Linked DNA regions of Homo sapiens: region 1 is linked to region 2. The links come from fine-mapping of genetic effects on gene expression. A gene starts in region 2. The other region holds a variant in brackets. All regions are shown on one strand. Distances are between the middles of the regions.

Region 1 (8,735 bases), 34 kb before region 2:
CACAATAGCAAAGACTTGGAACCAACCTAAATGTCCAACAATGATAGACTGGATTAAGAAGATGTGGCACATATACACCATGGAATACTATGCAGCCATAAAAAATGATGAGTTCATGTCCTTTGTAGGGACACGGATGAAACTGGAAACCATCATTCTCAGCAAACTATCACAAGGACAAAAAACCAAACACCGCATGTTCTCACTCATAGGTGGGAACTGAACAGTGAGAACACATGGACACAGGAAGGGGAACATCTCACACCGGGGACTGTTGTGGGGTGGGGGGAGCGGGGAGGGATAGCATTAGGAGATATACCTAATGCTAAATGACGAGTTACTGGGTGCAGCACACCAACATGGCACATGTATACATATGTAACAAACCTGCACGTTGTGCACATGTACCCTAAAACTTAAAGTATAATAATAATAAAATTTAAAAAAAAAGAATAAGTGAGAAAATGCTGATTAGGTGCCTAGCTCACAGTAGGTGTTTAAAAATGTGAGTGTTCCTTTCTTCCTTTCCATATATTCCTCCTACTCTCATCATTTCCACTTAGTATTTCTTTTATTGATACATAATAGATGTACATGTTTTTGGAGTGTGTGTGATAATTTGATACAGTCACAGAATCGAATCAAGGTTGATGGGATATCTATCATCTTTTTTTTTTCCTTCAACTTTATTTTAAGTTCAGGGGTACACGTGCAGGATGTGGAGGTTTGTTACAGAGGTAAACGTGTGCCATGGTGGTTTGCTGCACAGATCATCTCGTTACCTAGGTATTAAGCCCAGCATCCATTAGCTATTCTTCCTGATCTTCTCCCTCCCCCACCTCCCACCCCCAACAGCCCCCAGTAGGTGTTGTTCCCTCCGTGTGTCCTTGTCTTCTCATCATTCAGCTCCCATTTATAAGTGAGGACATGTGATGTTTGGTTTTCTGTTCCTGTGTTAGTTTGCTGAGGATAACAGCTTCCAGCTCCATCCATGTTCCTGCAAAAGACATGATCTTTTTCCTTTTTATGGCTGGATAGTATTCCATGGTGTGTATGTACTAAATTTTCCTTAGTCTATCATTGATGGGCATTTGGGTTGATTCCATGTCTTTGCCATTGGGAATAGTGCTGGAGTGAACATATGCATGCATGTATCTTTATAATAGAATGATTTACATTCCTTTGGGTATGGACCCAGTAATGAGATTTCTGGGTCAAATGGTCCTTCTGCCTCTAGATCTTTGAGGAGTTGCCACACTGTCTTCTACAATGGTTGAACTAATTTACACTCCCACGGACAGTGCAAAAGCGTTTCCATTTCTCCACAACCTCAAGAGCACATCTGTTGTTTTTGACTTTTTAATAATTGCTATTCTGATTGTTGTAAGATGGTATCTCAATGTGGTTTTGATTTGCATTTCTCTAATGATCAGTGATGTTGAGTTTGTTTTTTTTTCATATGTTTGTTGACTATATAAATGTCTGGATTTGATTTGCCAGTATTTTATTGCGGATTTTTGCATCAATGTTCATCAGGGATATTGGCCTGAAGGTTTCTTTTTTTGTGGTATCTCTGCCAGGTTTTGATATCAGGATGACACTAGCCTCATAAAATGAGTTAGGAAGGAGTCCCTCCTTTTTAATTTTTTAAAATAGTTTCAGCAGAAATGGTACCAGCTCTTCTTTGTACCTCTGGTAGAATTAAGCTGTGAATCCATCTGGTCCTGGGCTTTTTTTGGTTGGTAGACTATTTATTATTGCCTCAATTTCAGAACTCATTATTGGTCTATTCAGGGATTCAATTTCTTCCTGGTTCAGTCTTGGCAGGGTGTTTATCAGTTTCTTCTAGATTTTCTAGTTTATGTGCATAGAGGTGTTTATAGTATTCTCCAGTGTTTGTTTATATTTCTGTGGGGTCAGTGGTAATATCCCCCTTATCATTTCTGATTGTGTTTATTTGATTATTTTCTCTTTTCTTCTTTATTAGTCTAGGTAACAGTCTATCTATTTGATTAATTTTTTCAAAAAACCACCTCCTGGATTCACTGATTTTTTTTGAAGAGTTTTTTATGTCTCTATCTCCTTCAGTTCAACTCTGATCTTGATTATTTCTTGTCTTCTGCTAGCTTTAGGATCTGTTTGCTCTTGGTTCTCTAGTTCTTTTAGTTGTGATGTTGGATTGTTAATTAGAGATCTTTCTAGTTTTTTGATGTGGGCATTTAGTGCTATAAACTGCTTTAGCTGCATTCTTGAGATTCTGGTACGTTGTCTCTTGGTTCTCATTAGTTTCAAAGAACTTCTCGATTTCTGCCTTAATTTTATTGTTTACCCAGGAGTCATTCAGGAGCAGGTTGTTCAATGTAGTTGTGTGGTTTTGAGTGAATTTCTTAATCTTGAATTCTAATTTGATTTCGCTGTAGTCTGAGAGACTGTTATGATTTCAGTTATTTTGCATTTGCTGAATGTTTTACTTCTGATTATGTGATAAATTTTAGATAAGTGCCATGTGGCAATGAGAAGAATGTATATTCTGTTGTTTTGGGGTGGAGAGTTCTGTTTTATCAGGTCCACTTGATCCAGAGCTGAGTTCAGGTCCTGAATATCTTTGTTAATTTTCTATCTCAATGATCTGCCTAATATTGACAGTGAGGTGTTAAAATTTCCCATTATTATTGTGTGGGAGTCCAGATCTCTTTGTAGGACTCTACGAACTTGCTTTGTGAATTGAATCTGGATGCTCCTGCATTGGGTGCATATATATTTAGGATAGTTATCTCTTCTTGTTGAATCAAACCCTTTACCACTGTGTGATGCCCTTCTTTGTCTTTTTTGATCTTTGGTTTAATGTCTGTTTTGTCAGAAACTAAGATTGCAACCCCTGCTTTTTTCTGTTTTCCATTTGCTTGGTAAATTTTCCTCCATCCCTTTCTTTTGAGCCTATGTGTGTCTTTGCATGTGAGATGGTTCCCTTGAAGACAGCATACCAATGGGTCTCCTCTTTAGCCAGCTTGCCACTTGGTGTCTTTTAATTGGGACATTTATTTAGCCCATTTACATTTAAGGTTAATATTTTTATGTGTGAATTTGATCCTGTCATCATGATGTCAGCTGGTTATTTTACAGACTTGTTTATGTAGTTGCTTCATAGTGTCACTAGTCTGTGTACTTCAGTGTGTTTTTGTAGTGGCTGGTAACAATTTTTCCTTTTCATATTTAATGCTTCCTTCAGGAGCTCTTGCAAGGCAGGCCTGGTGGTGACAAATTCCCTCAGCATTTGCTTTTCTGAAAAGGATCTCATTTCTCCTTCGCTTATGAAGCTTAGTATGGCCAGATATTAAATTCTGGGTTGGTAATTCTTTTCTTTAAGAATGTTAAATATTGGCCTCCAATGTCTTCTGGCATATAGGGTTTCCACGGAGAGTCCCACTGTTACTCTGATGGGCTTCCATTTTTAGGTGACATGACCTTTCTCTCTAGCTGCCCTTAACATTTTTTCCTTCATTTTGACCTTGAAGAATTTGATGATTATGTGTCTTGGGGTTGATCTTCTCATGGAGTATCTTACTGGAGTTCTCTGGGTTTCCTGTATTTGAATGTTGGCCTGTCTTGCTAGGTTGGGGAAGTTTTCCTGGATGATATCCTGAAGTATGTTTTCCAACTTGGTTCTGTTCTCCCTGTCTCTTTCAGGTACCCCAATCAGTGCTAAGTTCAGTCTTTTTACATAATCCCATATTTCTCAGAGAGTTTGTTAACCCTTTGTTATTATTTTTTCTTCTTCTCATCTGTCTGTCTTATTTCTGAAAGATAGTGTTCAACCTCTGAGATTCTTTTCTCTGCTTGGTCTATTCTGCTATTGATACTTGTGATTGCATTGTGAAGTTCTCATGTTGTGTTTTTCAGCTCCGTGAGGTCAGTTATGTTCCTCTCTAAACTGGCTATTCTAGTTAGTAGCTCCTGTATTGTTTCATCATGATTCTTAACTTGTTTGCATTGGGTTACAACATGCTCCTTTAGCTCGCAAGGTTCATTAATATCCATCTTCTGAAGCCTACTTCTGTCAATTCAGCCATGTCAGCCTCTGCCCAGTTCATTCCCCTTGCTGGAGAGTTATTGCAGTCATTTGGAGAAGAGGCACTCCACCTTTTTGAGTTTTCAGAATTGTTTTGTTGATTCAGTGTCAGTTTTGTAGGCTTATCTGCCTGCAATCTTTGAGGTTGCTGACCTTTGAATGGGCTTTTTGTGGGG[T/A]CTTTTTGGTTGATATTGTTGTCATAGTTTTCCATTTGTTTGTTTTTCTCTTAACAGGGCACTGACTTAGCAACCGTAGGGCTGCTGTGGTTTTCTGGGGGTCCACTCCAGACCCTAGTTGCCTCAGTTTTTCCTGTACCTGGAAGTATCATCAGTGAAGTCTGTGAAACAGCAAAGATGCCAGCCTGCTCTTTCCTCTGGAAGCTCTGTCCCCGGGGGTTACTGACCTTTTCCTGGCCTGAACACTCTTGTAGGAGGTGTCTGGAGACCCCTCTTGGGAGGTCTCACCCGGTAGGAGGAATAGAATTCAGGAAACACTTACAGAAGCAGTCCAGCTGCTTTTTGGTAGAGCAGGTTTGCTGTGTTGACAAGGCTACTCTTTGTCCAGATGCCTAGACTCTCCAGAGCTGGCAGGCTTGAATAGCTGAGTCAACTGAAGTGCAGATATGGAAGCCATCCCTGCCGCCTACCCTGCCCCCACCAAGTTCCCTCCCAGGGAGAGATCAGGTCTTTATAATACTGGCTGGAGTAACTGAAGGCTTCCCACAGGAAGACCCCACCCAGTGAGGAGGACTTGATCGGGGTCTGCTTACAGAGGCAGTCTGGGCACAATCTGGCAAGTCAAATGTGCTGCATTAGGGGGTTCCCTCTTGTCCTGACCACCTACACTCTCCAGAGCTGGCAGGCTGGAATACTAGTTGACCGCACTATGAAAATAGTGCCCACCCCTCCCCTGGGAACTCCTTCCTATCTCAGGTGGGCTCAGCCTGTTGCCCCTGGCTGGCTGGAATTCCAAGCCAGTGTGTCTTAACTTGTGAGGTGCTGTGGAAGTGGGGCCTGCAGAATGACACTTCTTGGTTCCCTGGATTCAGCCCCCTTCCTAGGGGAATGTATGAACAGATCTGCTGCCTCACCAGGGATTTTGGGGCTAGAGTATGTAAAAGTCTTGGGTCTCTGCGAGTGCCTGAGTGGCTGCTCTGCCAAGGCCCCACACAGCTCTGTGTATAGGACCCAAGGCCCTAGAGGTGTGGGCTCACGAGGGGATCTCCTGATCTGTGGGCTGCAAAGATCTGTGGGAGAAGCATGGTTTCCTGGGCAGGGTTGCATGATCACTCACCACTTCCTTTGGCTGGGGGTGGGGGTTCCTTTGGCTTTGTGCTACTCCCGGGTGGGTCATTGCCCCAACCTGCTTTTCTTCATTCTCCTTGAGTCAGGTTAATTTTCTAGTCAGTCCCATTGTGAGAACCTGGATATTTCAGTTGAAGGTGCTAAATCCACTTGCGATTTTCCTTACTCTCTGTGAGTGCTGCGGACCACAGCTGCTTCTATTCGGCCATCACCACTGCAGGACAAGTCACTGAATGAGGGACAGGGCTGCTCACAGTGGAAACCACAAAGTAGCTCATTCTGCTCAGCACCTCGCTTACTACTTTGCCAGAGAGACAGGGTGAGGAGCAGATACTGAGTGAGCTTCCCTCAATGTCTGTGGTCTCTTTCTAACTACCTGCGGGAATCCTTGGATATCTATCATCTTAAATATTTATCTTTTCTTTACACTAGGAACATTCATATTATTGTTTTCCAGCTATTTTGAAATGTTCAATTGATTAATGTTAACTATAGTCACCCTACTGATCTATTGACTACCATGTCTTACTTCTATCTAACTGTATATTTGTATCCATTAATTAACCTGTCTTCATTCCCCCTGTACCCATACTTTCCTACCTCTGGTAACCACCAGTCAACTTTCTATCTCCATAAAATCCACTTTTATAGCTCCCACATATGAGTGAGAACATGTGATATTTGTCTTTCTGTGCTTGGCTTATTTTACTTAACATGTTGATGCAAATGACAAGATTTCATTATTTAGATAGCTGAATAATGATTCATTGCATATATATATACATATTATATATACATATTTTATATATATACATATTATATATATATATACACACACACACACACACACACACCTGTTTTCTTTATTGAATCATCTACTGAGGAGTACTTAGATCAATTCCATATTTTGGCTATTGTGAAGGGTGCTGCAATAAACATGGGAATCCAGATCCCTCTTTGATGTATTGATTTCCTTTCTTTTGGCTATATACCCAATAGTGAAATTGCTGGATCATATGGTAGTTCTATTTTTTAGTTTTAGTTTTTTTGTGTTTTTTTTTTTTTTTTTGAGACAGAGTCTTGCTCTGTCACCCAGGCTGGAGTGCAATGGTGCCATCTTGGCTCACTTCAACCTCCACCTCCTGGGTTCAAGTGATTCTCATGCCTCAGCCTCCCGAGTAGCTGGGATTACAGGCACCTGCCACCATGCCCAACTAATTTTTTGTATTTTTTATAGAGACAGGGTTTTACCATGTTGGCCAGGCTGGTCTCAAACTCCTGACCTCAGGTGATCCACCCGCCTCGGCCTCCCAAAGTGCTGAGATTACAGGCATGAGCCACCATGCCTGGCCTATTTTTTAGTTTTTTGAGGAAACTCCACACTATTTTCCATAATGGCTGTACTAATTTATCTTCCCATCAACAGTGTATGAGGGTTCCTCTTTCTCCACATCCATGCCAATATCTGTTATTCCCTTTCTTTTTTTTTTTTTTTTCTCATTAAACCTTTTTAATGGGTCTCAAAATTCTGTAACAGATTTTTGGTCAAGTTGTTTCCATTAAAAAGTACTGATTTTAAAAACTAATAACTTAAAACTGCCAGATGCAAAAAAGAAAACCAAAGTGGTCCACAAAACATTCTCCTTTCCATCTGAAGGTTTTATGATGCATTGTTATCATTAACCAGTCTTTTACTACTAAACTTAAATGGCCAATTGAAACAAACAGTTCTGAGACCATTCTTCCACCACTGATTAAGACCGGGTGGCAGGTATTAGGGATAATATTCATTTAGCCTTCTGACCTTTCTGGGCAACTTGGTGACCTTGCCAGCTCCAGCAGCCTTCTTGTCCACTGCTTTGATGACACCCACGGCAACTGTCTGTCTCATATCACAAACAGCAAAGCGACCCAGAGGTGTTTAGTATGAGAAGCTCTCAACACACATGGGCTTGCCAGGAACCATGTCAATGATGGCAGCATCATCAGACTTCAAGAATTTAGGGCAATCTTCTGGCTTTTTACCAGAACGGCAATCAATCTTTTCCTTCAGCTCAGCAATCTTGCATGCAATGTGGACCATGTGGCAATACAGTACAGCGGCATAGCCAGCGCTGATTTGGCCTGGATGGTTCGGGATAATCACATGAGCAGTGAAGCTAGCTGACTCCATTGGTGGGTCATTTTTGCTGTCAATTGCCACGATGAACATCCTTGACAGACATATTCTTGACATTGAAGCCCACATTGTCCCCAGGAAGAGCTTCACTCAAAGCTTCATGGTGCATTTTGACAGATTTTATTTCATTGTAATGTTGGCTGGAGCAAAGGTGACCACCATACCAGGTTTGAGAACACCAGTATCCACTCAGCCAACAGAAACAGTACAAATGCCACCAATTTTGTGGACATCCTGGAGATGCAGGCACAAAGGCTTGTCAGTTGGATGAGTTGGTGGTAGGATGCAGTCCAGAGCCTCAAGCAGCATGGTTCCACTGGCATTGCCATCCTTATGGGTGACTTTCCATCTCTTGAACTAAGGCATGTTATCACTTGACTCCAGCATGTTGTCACCATTCCAACCAGAAATTGGCACAAATGCTACTGTGTCAGGGTTGTAGCCAATTTTCTTAATGTAAGTGCTGACTTCCTTAATGATCTCCTCATATCTCTTCTGGCTGTAGAGTGGCTCAGTGGAATCCATTTTGTTAACACCAACAATTAGTTGTTTCACACCCAGTGTGTAAGACAGGAGGGCATGCTCTTGGGTCTGCCCATTCTTGGAGATACCAGCTTCAAATTCAGCAACACCAGCAGCAACAATCAGGACAGCACAATCAGCCTGAGACATCCCTGTAATCATGTTTTTGATGAAGTCTCTGTGTCCTGGGGCATCAATGATAGTCACGTAGTATTTGCTGGTATCAAATTTCCACAAGGAGATATCAATGGTGATACCATGTTCACGCTCAGCTTTCAGCTTATCCAAGACCCAGGCATACTTGAAGGAGCCTTTTCCATCTCAACAGCCTCCATCTCAAATTTTTCAGTGGTTCTTTTGTCGATGCCACCGCATTTGTAGATCAGATGACCAGTAGTGGTGGACTTGCCCAAATCTACATGTCCAATGACAACAATGTTGATATGAGTCTTTTCCATTCCCATTGTTGCTTTTAGGGGTAGTTTTCACAACACCTGTGTTCTGGTGGCAAAACCAGTGTGAAAAAGCTCCTTTCTTTTTGATAAAAAAGAAAGCCGTTTTAACTGTGGTGAGATGGTATCTCACTGTAGGTTTTTTGTTTTTTTTTTTTGTTTGTTTTTTTTTTTTTTTTTTTTTTGAGGCAGAGTCTTGCTCTACTGCT
Region 2 (8,735 bases):
GATGTTGTGCCAGGCATGCACAACTATGTCTTTAGTCATTGTGTTCCAAGTGTTGGCAACAACATATATGGCATCCTTCATGCTGAACTTTTTTTGGAAACCTTTCACACCCACACCTTTGCTCACTGCTACTAGCATGCCATTCAAGAAAATGTTTTTTATATTTAGTCTTCATTGATCCTCACAAAATGTAGTCTACGCTGGAGGAACGGGAGGAGTGCTGCTGGCAGGATGATGACTTTTCACAGCTCTCCCTAGGCATTTGTCTTCCTAGGTAGTTGAAGATTTGGCTGCAACTTTTCTGAAATATTTCTGAGAGGTGTTTCTTGAACTTCTCCCCAACAAAAGCATAGATAACAGGGTTCACACAGCAGTGAGTAAAGGAAATGATTTCTGTGACATGGGTGGCATAAGTCAGCTGTTGGCTTATGCTACATCCATCCAAGATGTGCATACTGTGCAAGGAAGTGAGGAAAAGAACCACGTTGAATGGGACCCAGAAAAGTAAAGATGCAATGACCACAATGAGCACCAACCTGATGGCCTTGGTCTTGTTGTGGTTTTGACACCTCTTCAGCTGGTGCAGGATTTTAATGTAGCAGAACATAAAGATGGTGAATGGGATCAACAAGCCTAAAATGTTCATTTTGAAGTTGGTGAAGATCTTCCACTTCAAAGTCTGTTGATTGTAAAATGAATAACACTGTAGAACACCATCTTCAGAGGCCACTTGGTAAAACACTAGCAATGGGATGGTAGCCATAATGGCGGTTAGCCATACTGCCAGGCACAGCGTTGTGCCCATCCTGATCGTCCTCACCTTTAGGGCATACACGGCATGGACAACAGCCAGGTACCTGTCCACACTCATGAGGGTGATGAAAAACATGCTGCTGTAGAAGCCAATGTAATAAAAGCCAGACACCACTTTGCACATTACAGTCCCAAACACCCACTGGTCCAGCAGATAGTAGGTCTGAAAGGGGAAGGAGAAGACAAAAAGCAGGTCAGACAGGGCCAGGTTCAAGAGGTATACATCTGTGATGCTCCTCAGCTTCTTGCAGACCACAAGGACCAGGATGACCAGGCTGTTTCCCAGAAGACTGAATACAAACAGGAGGCAATAAAAGACAGCAAGGAGCAACTTGCCATTTGTCTGAATAAGTTCCGCATCACAGGGGCTTGAGAAGATATCAGGGTAGTAGTAGTCGGTCACTGTTGTCACACTGAGGTCAAGTGTATAATCCATCAAGGCAGCGGGACCTGGTCACAGAGACACATAAAAGACATTCACTCCTTAAAAACATTTTTATTTTTTAAAAATTAGGGGGATGTTATGGACTGAACTGTGTCCTCCCCAAATTCATGTGTTGAAGTGCTCAACCTCCGGTGTGGGTGTGACTATTTGGAGTGGGTGAGACTATTTGGGCCTTTAAAGATGTAATTAAGGTTAAATGATAGACCGGGAGCTGTGGCTCATGCCTGTAATCCTAGCACTTTGGGAGGCCAAGGTGGGCAGATCACCTGAGGTCAGGGGTTCAAGACCAGCCTTGCCAACATGGCGAAACCCCGTCTCTACTAAAAATACAAAAATTAGCCGGGCATGGCGGGTGCATGCCTGTAATCCTAGCTACTCAGGAGGCTGAGGCAGAAGAATCACTTGAACCGAAGAGGTGGAGGTTGCTGTGAGCCGAGATCACACCACTGCACTCCATCCTGGGCGACAGAGTGAGATTCTGTCTCAAAAAAAAAAAAAAAAATTAAAATTAAAAAAAAAAAAAAAAGGTTAAATGAGGTTATAAAGGCAGGGCCCTGGCTCTCACAGTGACTCACACCTGTAATCCCAGCACTTTGGGAGGCCAAGGTAGGCGGATTGCTTGAGGCCAGGAGTTCGAGACAAGCCTGGCCAACAGTGCAAAACCCCGTCTCTACTAAAATTACAAAAATTAGCCAGGCATGGTGCCACATGCCTGTAATCCAAGCTACCTCGGGAGGCTGAGGCACGACAATTTCTTGAACCCAGGAAGCAGGGGTTGCAATGACTCGAGATCAAGCCACTGTACTCCAGCCTGGGTGACAGAGTGAGACTCTGTCTCAAAAAAAAGAAAACAGAAACAAAACCAAAAAAGGCAGGGCCCTAATCTGATAGAACTAGTGTCCTTAACAGAAGAGAAAGAGACACAAGAAATTTTGCTCCCCTTGTGCATGGAGTAAAGACCATGTGAGGACACAGCAAGAAGGCTGAAATCAGCAAGCCAGGTAGAGAAGCCTCACCAGAAATCAACTGCATTGGCAGCTTGGTCTTGGACTTCCAGCCTTTAGAAGTATGTTAAACAACACTTTCTGTTGTTTAAGCCACTCAGTCTATTGTATTTTGTTATGTAAACCAAAGGGAGTCAGCTGAGATGAGAAAAGCCAAAACTTACAAAGAAAATGTAAATACCCATAGTTCCATCACCTAGAATTAGCAGCTGCTAACATATTCTCACAATGCTTTGGGTTATTTTTTTTTCCTTCCTTCCTTCTTTTTTTCTCCCTTCTTTTCTCCCTCCCTCATTCCCTCTCTTCCTTCCATCCCTCTTTCTTTTTTTATTTCTGATGCAATAGAGATGAAGCTAATGTTCCCTTTAACTACACAACTTATCCCCATAACAGAAACAACAACTAAAACCAATTTGGTATGTATCATTCCAAACAATTTCCCCCTGTACTTTTACATATTTATATATATCCATAAACAATATATATTTTTGTGTGTTTTAACTTACATAAATGATATATTGTTTTAACTTACATAAATGATATATTGTTTTTCCCTTTGTATTTTGCTTATTGTTTTAGAGATATATCTGCATGATATTCATCAGTTTATTCTTTTAATTGCTTTCCTAAGCACCAGAAAAAAAATAACTTTATAAATGCAATAGAAAAATGATCCCAATTATACTAGCAATGAAAATTACTAGCATTACTAGGAATAAAACTAATAAAAATGCAATTCAGTTACATAAAAATTATAAAACTTGACAATTCTTCTCAAATTGATATATACATTCAATGCAATTTCAATCCAGACATATTTTTCCAAGGCATTTGTTTGCTTTACATTCAGACACCCCTCTCCACTCTGCTACTTTTCTATGATTTGAAAGCACAAGCAAGCAAGCAAGCAATTTATTTATTTTTTTAGAGACAGGGTCTCACTATGTTGCCCAAGCTGGAGTACAGTAGTTATACGCAGGTGTGATCTCACACAAAGCCCTGACTTCTGGGCGCAAGCAATCCTTCTGCCCCAGGCTCTTGAGTAGCTGGGACTACAGGCACCCACCAGCAACTTCTTTAGTCATATGAAAGTTTGCTCGCTGGCTTCTTTCCTTAAGAACAGCACCCAGGTGTCCTTCAGTTACCTGATAGAAGCCCTGTACCCAGCACAAGGACAGATCTTCCCAGATGCCTGGTATTATAAAGGATCTTCTCTTATCTACCTTCCCACTCTTGTAGGAGTTTTCACTCTCTCCTAAAGGCCTGCAGAGAATATGGCACGGTTTGCTCTCCTCAGCCAGAGCATGGGCAGCCACTAAGACACATGCATGTTTGTGGGCTCTGAGGAAATGCAAAGATTTAAAAAAAAATTTTACTTCTTGTGCTAGACCTCTGAAATTTTGGTCTTCCCTTTGCCTATCCTCTAAAGATATAAAAATGCCCCTGCCTACTCATGCCCTTCTTCCCCAAGGATGCTTGTAGCACATACCTTAGTGACAGCCTTTGTTCTGGAGGTTTCAGTGTTGCCAATTCCTTCTTCACAAAGTCTGTATCCTCATGTGAGTGCAGCTCAATGAGCAGCAGCCTCTCTGGAGGTATCCTCCCACTACAAACAGCAGATGGAGAGAAGGCAGTCTCTTGAGGGCTCCACCCTCACACCTAGTCACCTAAAGGGAGGCAATGAGGGTTAAATGAGATCGTAAGGCTGAGGCCCTAATTCAATAGGACTGGTGTCTCCTAGGTAGAGGAATACACACCAGAGCTCACTCTCTTGCCTCCAGGTGCTCAGAGGAAAGGCCATGTGAGGACACAGGGAGAAGGCAGCCATCTGCAAGTAAGGTAAATAGGCATCACCAGAAACCAGACTTGTGGGCACCTTGGTCTTCTAGCCTCCAGAACTGTGGGAAAACAAATTTCTGTTGTTTAAGCTACTCAGCCTGTAGTATTTTGTTATGGAAGTCCTAGCAGACTAATACAGGGGTTAATGGGAATTTTCTGTGTTGTCTACCTAGATTTTCTGTAAACTTAAAACCTCTAAAAAATAGTCTATTAAAATTTTTAATTGAAATCAGTATTAAAATGAAATCATAATTCCATTATTATTTTGAAGTTATACAATTTATACCAGGACTGGCTTTCCTCCATGGTATGTAGCATACACAAATGTGTGTGTATGTTGTATGCATGTACATATATTAACTCTTTCAACAGGAATGCCATTTGAAAATCACTTTAAGTCAGTTTCCCCTATCCCAGGAGAGTGAACATGAGTCCCAGAATTGTTGGGAGGAAATGACAGAAGTTCCAGAATCTCCTCATCTCCAACCCACTCATTCCTGGAGAAATGCAGTAGAAATATCTGCTGGATGCCAGGTACGGTGGCTCACATCTGTAATTCCAGCATTTTGGGAGGCTGAGGCAGGAGGATTGCTTGAGCCTAGGAGTTCAAGACCAGACTGGTCAACATAGCAAGACCCCATCTCATACGGTTTGGCTCTGTGTCCCTACCCAAATCTCATCTTGAATTATAATCCTCATAATCCCCATGTGTCAAGGGCGGGACCAGGTGGAGTTAATTGGATCATGGGGGCAGTTTCCCCCATGCTGTTCTCATGATAGTGAGTGAGTCTCAAGAGATCTGATCTGATGGTTTTATAAACACCTGGCATTTTCCCTGCTTGCACTCACTCCATCCTGCCGACCTGTGAAAAATGTGCCTGCTTCTCCTTTGCCTTCCACCATGATTATAAGTTTCTTGAGGCCTCCCCAGCAATGCAGAACTGTGAGTCAATTTAACCTCTTTCCTTTATAAATTATCCAATCTTGGTCTTTCTTTATAGCAGTGTGACAACGGACTAATGCATCATCTGTACAAATTTTTTAAATAAAATTAGCCAGGCATGGTGGCATGCACTTGTAGTCCCAGCTACTTGGGAAGCTAAAGTGGGAGGATCACTTGAGTCCAGCAGTTTGAGGTGAGCTATGATTGAGCCACTGACCTGTCTCTAAAGAAAAAATAAAAGGAAATATCTGCTGGTACCTGAATTCATACCTCGGCAAATTCCCCTCACCATCATTCATGTTTTGACGCAGTTTGGGGAAAACCCAGTTCCTTTATGAGAGTTTTGTATGTGATAAGCAAAGATCAATGGTGAGCCGATGGAGAACTCAGGGCCCTCAGGTATTACTAGTCCATGTCATGATGGTGGGAACTATGGGACCGCCTCATCAGTGAGGGCAGGTGTGGGGGAAGCCACCTTCCCCTCCAAAGCCCAGTTAAGCAAGGCCTGAGGGACTAAGGTGGAATTCCCCCCAAGCCCAGTTTCTAGTGCAAGCTGATCTAAACCCCAAACAGTCTCTATCTTCAGTTCCTGAGGATTCTTTTATCAGCTGCTCCTCCATACTTGGCACAGTGCTTAGTGCACAGCAACTTCTTAATAAATAGTTGAACAGAGAGAATGAGGCAAGGTGGAGATGTGGAGTCTGGTGAAGAGTTGGAGGAAAGGACTGAACAGCCAGAATGGAAGGATGCTCCTCTTTTTGTGTTTCCTGAGCCAGATCTGAGGGCTGGTGTGGGCCCCTGCAGGACTGGACACTTGCCTGCTGTCACCTGTGTATTTGTTTCCTGTGGCTGCTGTAACAAATTACCACCAACTTAGTGGCTTAGAGCAGCAGACGTGTATTCTCCCCCAGTTCTGGAGGCCAGATGGCTATAATCCAGCAGGGCTGCCTCCTTCTGGGTGCTTGAAGGGCGAATTGTTCCTTGCCACTTCTGGCTCTTGGTGGCTGCCCCAGCAAACCTGGGGCTTGTGGCCACATCACTTTAATCTCCACCATCTTCACATCTCCTTCTCCACTGTGTGTCTGCATCAGATCTCACCCACCTCTGATTTATGAGAACACTCATGATTGGATTTAGGATCCGTCCAGGTAATCCATGATAATCTCCCCATCTCAAAATCCTTGACTTAATCACATCTGCAGAAGCTCTTCTCCCAAGTAAAGTAACATTTACAAGTTCTAGGAATTAAGACTTCATCTCTTTGGTTGACCATTATTCAACCCACAACATCCTGACTCGGAAGACAGACAAACTGTGACATAGTTAACTGACAAGCCTTGGTTCCTCACCTTTGGGCCTACATCAGGGATTCAGGCATTCTATGGGAAGGCAGCAGAAACCAAACTACAAAACCAAAGTAGTGTGACCCCTCCAGAGCCAATGGCCTCTCCAAGTCTACCTTCTGCTGCACATTCAATGGGTTCTGAAAATGCTGGATCAGATCCATTGGGGACATCCCATCTAAATTCAATTCTACTGGGTCCCTCCAAAGGTTCAAAAGACTGTATTTCACTTCAGAGGGAAAAAGAGACTAGCAGCATATTTGACCTCCTTTCCTCCAAAATAAAGAGAAAGAAAAAACTGTATTTAAATAAACCCTAAGTGTAAATGTAGAAATTACTACTATCACAGATATTTGTCATAGAGTATTAGGGCAGAAAATGGCCTCAGGTCATACAGCTGATGTCTCTCTCCCTCTCTTTCTTTCAAAGTAGTAATATTTAAGTCCAGAGAGGCAAAGTGGCTCACCCAAAATCACACAGTAATTTGGTGGTAGAGCCAGAGCCAGAACTCAGGTCTTCCGAGGCACAGCTGAGGGTGCTTTTCTTACTGCACCACATTCAAAATTCTCGTGCAATAACATTATGAAGAGTTGTGGATAAGACTAGAGGAAGTCTTTCTGTATTTTCTATAGTTTTCAACTATATGTCAGTCCCTCAGTGATTTGTAGGGTAAAAATGCATTTGCTTAACGAAAAGTGTTAGACAAAGCCAGAGTTTAAGAAAAGCTCGTGTGTTATTAATAGTAAAGCCAGTTTTGCTGTCTATATAATTTAATTTCCCATATGGATTACAAAAAAGAGTAACAAGAAACAGATTTTCTTTTTTACTACTATTTATTTCCTTCATAAGAGTAATCATGACAATTGTCAGAATACAAAAAAAGGTATCATCATAATTTTGATTTGAAGGGTTGAATATGGAGAAATGTGGTTAATAACGTATTTTTAGTTGCATTTTCAGGAAATTCATATTACCTTGTGTGCCAGAATAATTGATTAGATCTCTTAGTGGTTTGTTTTGTTTTGTTTGAGACGGAGTTTTGCTCTTGTTGCCCAGGCTGGAGTACAATGGTGCAATCTTAGCTCACTGCAACCTCTGCCTCCTGGGTTCAAGTGATTCTCCTGTCTCAGCCTCCCTAGTAGCTGGGATTATAGGCGCCCGCCACTACACCTGGCTAATTTTTGGTATTTTTAGTAGAAACGGGGTTTTACCATGTTGGCCAGGCTGGTCTCTAACTCATGACCTCAGGTGATCCACCCGCCTCAGCCTCCCAAAGTGCTGGGATTACAGGCATGAACCACTGTGCCCGGCCTTTCTTTTTTTTTTTTTTTTTGAGACAGAGTCTTCCTCTGTGGCCCAGGCTGGACTGTAGCAGCATGATCTCAACTCACTGCAGCCTCCACCTCCCAGGTTCAAGAGACTCTCCTGCCTCAGCCTCCAGATTGGCTGGGACTACAGGTGCATGCCACCATGCCCGGCTAAATCTCTTAGCCTTTTGGTGGTGCTTTATTCCCAGAATTTATCTTCTACAAACATGCTCACCACCTTTTTCCAAGGCTACAAGCACTGAAGTGCCTAGCATATTCTCAGAACTGCTTTTGCCATTAGAAGGGATAAAAAAATGAAATTTATGATTTCCTCACTTAAGGAGCTTAGCAATCATGGCACTTTCATCACAGGAGTCCCAGGAGGTGATGGTTCTCTGAAGAATGATGAATAATGAAAGGAAAAAGTATCACTGTGAAAACCATGTAGAAACCCAGAGAAATCTTTATGATTAAGGTGGCATGTATACTATGACTGTCTCTTTGCGAAGCATGGATGAGTGTGGGTACATCCAGAATGAAATAGGCAGAAATTAAAACAATCTTATATTAGGTTATTTCTTTTTATTCTTAAAATTCTCTTTAATAAAGGCACGCTGTCATTTCAATTACAAGTTTTTAGGAAATAGAAAATTGCTATCAAGCACTAATTCAAAGCAAACACATTTTCATGTTGTGAATGATTTATTGATTAAATTGGAGATCAATTTAATAAGCCACACTTGTAATTCTCTCCCATTGACTTGCAAAAAGCACCTGCATTGCCAAAAGTGGTACACAAAGGAAGCCTGAGTTTATCATTATGAAGTTGGGGAGAAAAAAAAAATATGAGGCCAAAGTAGTGTGAGTCCTCCAGAACCAATGGCCTCTCCAAGTCTATCTTATGTTCAGTACCTGGGCCACATGAAAAACTCTTAAGGGGAAACTAGGAAGAGTTCGCCTCTGCCCAGGAAAAATGCTCACAAGTTAAGGGTAAACGTAGAATGTCAAGATACTTCTCTTCTTCACTCCTGATAATATTTA

What was found. PIP is the estimated chance that this variant, and not a neighbour inherited with it, causes the effect.
Region 1: its variant is fine-mapped to the expression of CCR8 in whole blood (TOPMed, PIP above 0.99). The same link has a PIP of 0.9 or more in T cells and lung.

What each region holds. Positions count from the first base shown.
Region 1 is chr3:39,358,348-39,367,082 of GRCh38, reverse strand. It overlaps the pseudogene EEF1A1P24. Among named protein-coding and RNA genes, the nearest start is that of SLC25A38, 21 kb to the left of the region's middle. RefSeq lists an enhancer at 5,359-5,588. The variant T/A (reference allele first, on the strand shown) is at 4,246.
Region 2 is chr3:39,324,846-39,333,580 of GRCh38, reverse strand. CCR8 (C-C motif chemokine receptor 8) reads right to left here and starts at 3,872. Exons shown (of 2, transcript NM_005201.4): 1 at 3,752-3,872; 2 at 1-1,263. The coding sequence starts at 1,249. The coding sequence ends at 182. RefSeq lists enhancers at 5,201-5,290, 5,641-5,730.